Linked DNA regions of Homo sapiens: region 2 is reported to be linked to region 1. Evidence: microRNA targets listed by miRTarBase, many of them from high-throughput screens and not tested one by one. Region 1 holds a microRNA gene; the other region holds the end of a gene's coding sequence.

What was found. Region 1 holds the annotated microRNA hsa-miR-597-5p (UGUGUCACUCGAUGACCACUGU, at 2,670-2,691, opposite strand). A microRNA usually pairs through its seed, bases 2 to 8, with sites in the 3' UTR of a target mRNA and lowers its output. Matches are read on the target gene's strand: a 7mer-m8 pairs with bases 2 to 8, a 7mer-A1 pairs with bases 2 to 7 and ends in A, and an 8mer does both.
Region 2: miRTarBase lists EMCN as a target of hsa-miR-597-5p. The part of its 3' UTR that is shown has no 7-base or 8-base seed match.

The regions. Positions count from the first base shown.
Region 1 is chr8:9,740,256-9,744,377 of GRCh38, reverse strand. MIR597 (microRNA 597) reads right to left here and starts at 2,706; the gene lies at 2,610-2,706. The region is part of intron 17 of TNKS (tankyrase); the gene reads right to left.
Region 2 is chr4:100,406,786-100,410,785 of GRCh38, reverse strand. It overlaps EMCN (endomucin), which reads left to right. Exons shown (of 12, transcript NM_016242.4): 11 at 431-504. The coding sequence ends at 465. Among named protein-coding and RNA genes, the nearest start is that of SNORA101A, 14 kb to the right of the region's middle.

The DNA of each region.
Region 1 (4,122 bases):
GAAAGCACTGGAAAATAAAAACAGTTGAGAGAAAATGAATCAGTCAATTGATTTACTCTTATAAGATATAAATTTACATGCTTTGTGGTAATAAGTATCAATGCCATTTACTGACTTAGCAGAAAAGTTAACTGTCTTGTATAAACATGTATTCAAATATAACACAAGGCATTATTATATAAAGAACACCGACACAGTAAGGCACACTACCACTAATATCAACTCTCATGCAACTTGTAATTTTTATTGATGCTTCTTAAATAAATATGTATTTTTTTCTCCATTTGGAAAAACTGAGGTTCTTTTTATACAAAAAAGGCTCAAAGACACACACAGAGCAGATTGAGCTCTCTAGGGGAAAAAAGTAAATAAGTATGAAGGAATAATGATCAATAAATAACTACATAAGTAAATAACTATGTAATTTCACAGCTACCTCAGATTATTATTTCATCCTCAGCCTAGTCAATTAATCTGTGTTTATTTAACACAGCACTGAGCCAGTCAAATATATAGATTATTCCTAAGGCTGTGAAATGTAGGAGTGACATGCAGCCCTTATTCTGACTGGCTTAGTACAGGAACTGTGGGAAGCAAGGAATTTACTAATTTTTAATATCTATACATCTATAGATATGGATATGTATTTTTTGGTAGAAATGGGGTCTCGCTATGTTGCCTAGGCCGGTCTTGAACTCTTGGGCTTGAAAGATCCTCCCGCCTCAGCCTCCCAAAGTGCTGGGATTATAGGCATGAGCCATTGCACCCGGCCATGAAGCAAGTTATTTTATAATAACAGTATTACCTTGCATTTTTATAATGCCTTACATTAGTTAATGCAATTTCCACATGCATGGTCTCATTTAATCATTACAACAAGCTGGAAAGGAGGTCTTGGAATCCAACTTTTACTACTGAGAAAACCAAAGATGAGAAAAAGTTAGACACTTGCTGAAGACTACTGGGTTATAAAACAGAAGAGGAAAGACTAGATCCCAGATATTCAGACCCTAAGTTCAGGTTTTTCCATTAAACCACAGGTGCCTGCAGAGTTTGCTAGACTAAAACACAAGAGCCATTTTCCTTCCAAGCTGAAAATGGGAAAGAGATAATATTAGGAAGAAGAAATGATTTAAGTAGAGATCACTGGGTAACACTATACCTACAGTTGCTCTATAAATTGCTTGATTTTCAGAATAGAAGCTGTATTCCAGATGATATGCCACAGAAAATCTACTCCACAAAATGATATGTGGCCAGGCTAGTTCAAGCATCATCAAATTCATGGGACGAATACAACATAATCAGTGTTTTTCTATCCTAATAGAAATGTAGACTGGAGTCCTATGATTTCATTAAAATATCCAGCCAAGGCAGGATAGAATGAATAAAAAGGAACTTTTGAAAGATACACAGATTTATCAATCTACAAATAATAGAACACAGTTGTATCTACTCTTAAGGGGAGACAAAGTAGCTTTTTAAACTTTTTATATTGTGTTAATATTAGTACTCCTTAAATATATAAATGTATGTATTTATTACTCCTTAAATATAAGGATATACATGTATATCCTTAAATATATAAGTATATATATTTAAGGAGTACTAATAAATACTTCTTAATTTAATTCATTATATTTTAAATAAATATTTATTAAATATTTATTTATAAATAATTATATAGAGATAGGGTCTCACTATGTCGCCCAGGCTGGTCTCAAACTCCTGGCCTTAAACCATGTTGCTGTCTCAGCCTCCCAACGTGCTGAGATTGCAGAAGTGAGCCACCATGCCTAGCCTTACTTTAAGTCTATTAATTGAGATTAAGAGAAATACTACTTAATATGGTTACTGATTGGTTACTAATAATAGATTATAGGTTTTACAAGTGGCATAAAATAAAATTATTTTGCGGAGCAGAGATCGTGAACAGGGAAAATACCAACTGAGAGTCACTGTATGTCATGCGAGATTGCTGAGGGAAGTGGGTTGCCCATGTTAAAAAACAAAAAAAAGGTATTATCACACTCATGTATCTGACCAAAAAAAAAAAAAGGTAATTAAAAAAAGGTCTAGAAATCACCAGAGTCAAAGTTTGCCAAAAAAAAGTAACAGTCATCAACTCACGGATGCCTGATTTTTAAATTTACAAGTTTAATACATGAAAAAAATTTTTGAGTGACTCAATCCACCCTCACAATGAGGTAAAAATACCTGCTATAAACACATTATGTAGCCCATTTGCATTCTTCCATACAAGGATGAGATGAACCAGGTTGATCAAAACCTCTATCAAATGCCCTTTACAAGGCCTGGAGAATTTTTTGATCATTCTCACCTCAGTAAGTTACCTTCATTTACAAAGAGCTAAGTAGTAGGGATTTAACAAACATAAAAAGAGGATACCATAAAAAGAGATAGTGAAAAAAAGTGTTCATTATTTTTTCTTACTTGGAGTTAGAAAAGGAGAAGGGGAGTTATGGGTGATGGTGAATAAAGTTTATGAAAATGAAAGAGTGGACTTCCGGTCAGGAGACCGATTGCATTACACCTCTCTTCAGGTGACAGCAAGTCAGCCTCAAGGGAACGTGAAGTTAGACAAGGTCGACCAGTACTCTACATTACGCTTGAGCCACAAGAGAACCACTGTACATTTTACTGTCTTCACAGTGGTCATCGAGTGACACACACGTAGAGTAAGTAACATCTTAACTGATGGGGATCAAAAGGTAAAATACTTAGTTTATAAATTAACTTTCCTTTATCCTCTGTGACAGCTATAAAGACTGTGCAAGGTGAAGACTAATGCAGTAGAACACATCTTAACGCTATCCCATGAGAAGAATGAGGATCAAAAGGTAAAATACTTTATAAATTAATTTTTCTTTTCCTTATCCTCCGTGACTGCTATAAAGACTGTGAAAGGTGAAGGCTAATGGAGTAGAACTTCCTTACATCCACAATGTATGGGATCTACTGTAGTCTACACAGTTGACAGTGTAACATAAGCCTTACTAGATCAGTTCATTATTATAATTCTATGGCCACCATCTGTCCCTACTCATAGTAAGTTTACAGAGACGATAAAAGATCTAATTTCAGTTCTACCGATCCCATTGGCTTTATAAACCCTTAACTGAAGCTTAGCAAAAGGATTAGTAGAAAACCATATGAAGAGAACAATTATGCTAAGAAGTGCTGAAAATTTGTCTCCAAATGATATACATGTGTAAGTTATAACTTAAGGGTCAAGAATTACATGTAGGCCGGGCGTGGTGGCTCACGCCTGTAATCCCAGCACTTCGGGAGGCCGAGGCAGGCGGATCACGAGGTCAGGAGATAGAGATCATCTCGGCTGACACGGTGAAACCCCGTCTCTACTAAAAATACAAAAAAAATTAGCTGGGCGTGGTGGCAGGCGCCTGTAGTTCCAGCTACTCGGGAGGCTGAGGCAGGAGAATGGCGTGAACCCGGGAGGCGGAGCTTGCAGTGAGCTGAGATAGCGCCACTGCAGTCCGACCTGTTCTCAAAAAAAAAAAAAAAAAAAACAACAAGAATTACATATAAATGTATATGTAGTATGTTAGCAGCAAATATTTAGCATGCTAAGTCTTTGGTAGAAGTATTTGTTGCTCAGAGAAATTGAGAACCTTATGTGAAGGAAGGTTAAAATTTCTACGAATTTTAATAAAAGACTACTCATCTTTAGAAAGGTAACTTTAAATACTGTAGTTTCAAGAGGATTTCAGTACTAACACTCATTAAATATGATACTTTCAATTAATTTATATCATACTTGGAAGCATAGTTTTCTTTCAAAAAACCGGATTGTTGCTTTCCTTAAAAGTATCCTCACTCAGATTTGTCCTCTCTCTGAAATACAGGTCTTTGTAAAATGGGTCTGAGAGACGACAGTCTCATTACAAAGGGCCAGGGAGAAGGCGGTAGGAGGAAGAATATGGTAATCAAGGTGGTTGGGTTGGTTTGGTTTTTATTTATAGTTTGTCAGGCTTTTGCAAATCTAGAAACCACCTTCTATCAAGAGTGATTCCAACTGTGAGAACACCTGGTACGTATGAACTGGCATCTGTGGGTTTTTACAGTCAAGAAGGGATTAAG
Region 2 (4,000 bases), not on the chromosome of region 1:
AACCCTCACTGAATTATTTAAACAGAAGGACCCTAGAATGTCTTCCTGATAAAATGGCACTTTAAACACATGACATGGGCTTGCTTAGGCACAGCCAGCTCATGTAACAAGCAAAAATCAATACTTATTCCCCAGGGTTTCTCTAATGTTATCATCTCCCAACTCACATCCCCGCCCCCACTGCCCCCTGACCTATCCCACCCAGGACTTCATATTGCTACTTTAAAGTGAAAACAGATGATGTCTGGGAAAAGTTCATATATTTTGGTGACTAATTTCTAGACAATACCAAGAGGCAAATGGTGGCTTTAATGACATTCTTGCAGGAAAGTTGAACTTTCCTTGAAAAATAGAAAAAAGCTAGGAAACTTTATTTTCATCCTTACTCAGTCTCTGAGCTTACAGATCAAAACATATCTTCTGTTCTCAGGTGAGCACTCTGCACAAGGAAAAACCAAGAACTGACAGCTTGAGGAATTCTCTCCACACCTAGGCAATAATTACGTAAGTTTCCCAATTTCATTCACGGAGACAATCATTAATATCTGTTTTGTTAGCCTGGTGCAGCTTAGATTGTTTTTAAAGAATTTCAAAAGCTGGAAAGCTAATGGTTTGTGTCAATGCAATGATCATTGTCTATTTGTCTAAAAACAAACTCTAACAAAAATTGCCAAAAAATGAATGACCTGGTGGTTGTAGACGATTTGTCCAATTCTCTTGCCTGTCTAAGGAATGACACAATTTGCTCTTTCTGCCTGTTGTTAATGTTTCCTTGTAAATTCAGTCTGCCTACCTAGGTCAGTAAGCACACACTAACTGTGGCACTTAGACAGGCTTCTGTTGCTGACAAAGACTGGCAGAATCCAAGTGACGGTGCTTGCAAATTTGCAGTTTATTGCAAGAAAATGATAAAATATAGAAACTGCATTAAAGTAAAGATGTGTATCACAGCCGTAGGCTGGCTCAGGGAAATGGGTTCAGAGAAGCTAGTTGAAGGGTCTAATTGCCCTCTCTCTATAAGGACCATACCAGAATATGGTCCTTATATTTTTCTCTCTGGGTCCAGAAACCATGGATGTGTGGAAAAAAACACCTCAAACAAGATGATCTAAAATTCAGTTTCAGCCAGGTTTCCTTTTACTCAGCTGGTCATGTAGACATAGTCTTGCTGTGTAACCAGCCAAGCAACAGAGCCCTCCAGGTATCTTGACAAAACCAGATACAAATGATCAATCTTACTACAATAATTGTGAATCAATAAAAAATGGAAATTTCTCAAAAGTATGTTCCATGTCATGACCAGGAGTAAGCTCAAGGCAGGTACGTTTCTTATTTTAGTAAACAGCTCAGGCCAACGTTAAACCTGCTTTGGAATTAAGTCTCCCAGTTGGTATGGGATTGACTTTTACTTTCCTAGAACTAAGTAAGGAAATGCTCTTCTGACTTTAATTTAATTGTTACAAGAAGTATTGATTAAGTGCTGTCACTTAGTTTTTGAGGTTTTATAAAACTTGCAGAAGAATCTACCTTTCGGCAACTAACAATAAAAAATAAAATAAAATAAAATAAATACGTGTCCAGAATTGGCCTGACCACAATGATAGTCACTCTAGGTAAAGTGTCCACGATGAGAAATATTGTTATTCATGGCCTATGTCTAATCCCTAATTAACTAACACTGTTCTGTTACAGACACTCAGAAATTTCTTGTAGAATAAATGGTACCTGCTGTGCTTGTCTGACCAGTAGCAGAAGACAGAGACAGAGGAGTGCCATCCAAACATATGTGTCAGTATCAGAATTTTATCCCTCTCTAGCCAGTAATTAGGGATGGATTAGGAATCTTGGAATTTGTGCACCTCCAGCATGCTGCAGTGCCCTATGGAAAAGAGGCAAGACTGCCTTCCCCTGCCCTCCTGCTCTTCACCAGTCATGAGCCCCTAGCTTGGGCCTGCAATGCAACCACCTTTCCCCAGCTGATTATTCTAATTGGCAGTGGCTCTGAGTGGCATGCCAAGGTCCCTGCCCCTGCTGCCACCAAGCTGGGGAGAGAGAAAAAATCCTAAGCTTGTCTCAGGCCTGCAGTGCACAGTCTGGGAGTGCTAAGCTGAGATCTATGACCAGCACTTGAGTGGGAGAGGATCACACACTCTCAGAGCACTGAGGGGAAGCATGGCTACAAATGTGAGGAAACACAGAGGGGCTGCATGGCTGGGTAAGAGCCTATCTACCAGTCATTATGTTTAAGCACTATCTATTAAATTGCAAACCAAACTTCAACACCAAAAATACTTTGGTAATATACTCCTCTGTAAAACCAAGGACAAGAACTCAACTGCAAATAAAGACCCTGCACAAAGCCTCAGCCCTCTGAACACATACAGAAATGAAACCGACTGACTATACTCAAATTACACTGCAATTAAAGAAACATCAGTCCACATAGGTGAGAAAGAACCAGCTCAAGAACTCCTGAAACTCTAAAAGCCAGATTGCCTCCTTACCTCCAAATGACTGAACTAGCTGCTCTGCAGTGATTCTTAACCAGAATAAAATGGATGAAATTACAGAAATAGAATTCAGAATCTGGATGGCAATGAAGATCACTGAAAATCAGAAGATTGAAACCCATTCCGAGGAATCTGAGGAATTCAACAAAACCATACAAGGAATGAAATATGAAATAGCCATTTTAAGAAAGAACAAAACTGATCTGACAGAGCTGAAAAACTCACCACAAGAATTTCATAACACATTGGAAGTATTAACAGCAGAGTAGACCAAGTCAAGTAAAGAATCTCAGAACTCAAAGACTAGTTCTTCACATTAACAGTCAGATAAAAATAAAGAAAATAGAATTTTCAAAAATGAACAAATCTCCAAGAAACATGAGATTATGTAAAAAGACAAAACTTATGACCCATTGGCATCCCTGAAAGACAGGGAAAGAAAGCAAGCAATTTGGAAAACATGTTTGAGGATATTGTCCATGAAAATGTCCCCAACTTAGCTAGAGAGGTTGATATTCAAATTCAGGAAATTCAGAGAACCCCAGCAAGATACTATATAATACAACCATCCCCAAGACACATAGTCATCAGATCCTCCAAGGTCAATGTGAAAAGAAAACTATTAAAGGTAGCTAGGGAGAATGAGCAGGTCAACCTACAAAGGGAACCACAGCAGTGGATAACACTGGACCTTTCAGCCAAAACTCTACAAGCCAGAAGAGACTGGGGGCCTATATTCAGCATCCTTAAAGAAAAGAAATTCCAACAAAGAATTTCATATCCAGCCAAACTAGACCTCATAAGCAAAGGAGAAATAAAATCCTTTTCAGACAAGCAAATACTAAGGGAATTCATTACCACCAGACCTGCTTTTCAAGAGGTTCATAGGGAGTGCTGAATATGGAAATGAAAGACCATTACTGGCTACTACAAAAACACACTAAAGTTCATACACCATTGATGCTATAAAGCAAAAACACAATCATGTCTACGTAACGCCAGGTAACAACAGAATGACAGGATCAAATCCACACATATTAATATTAACCTTGAATGGTAGTGGGCTAAACACTCCACTTAAAAGGCATAAAGTGGCAAATTGATTAAAGAAGAAAGACCCAAGTGTATGCTGTCTTTAAGAGACCAATCTCACATTCAAGGACACCTATAGGCTCAGAGTAAAGGGATGGAGAAAGATTTATCAAGCAAATAGAAAACAAACAAAAAAGAGCAGGGGTTGCTATTCTTATTTCAGACAAAACAGACTTTAAACCAAAAATGATCAAAAAGGACAAAGAAAGGAAGTGATAAAGGGTTCAACTCAACAAGAAGACTTAACTATCCTAAATATATGCACCCAATACTACAGCACCTGGATTTATAAAACAAATTCTTTTAGTCTTACAAAGAGACATAGGTAACCACACAATAATAGTAGATTTCAACACCCCACTGATGATATTGGAGAGATCATCAAGACAGATTACTAA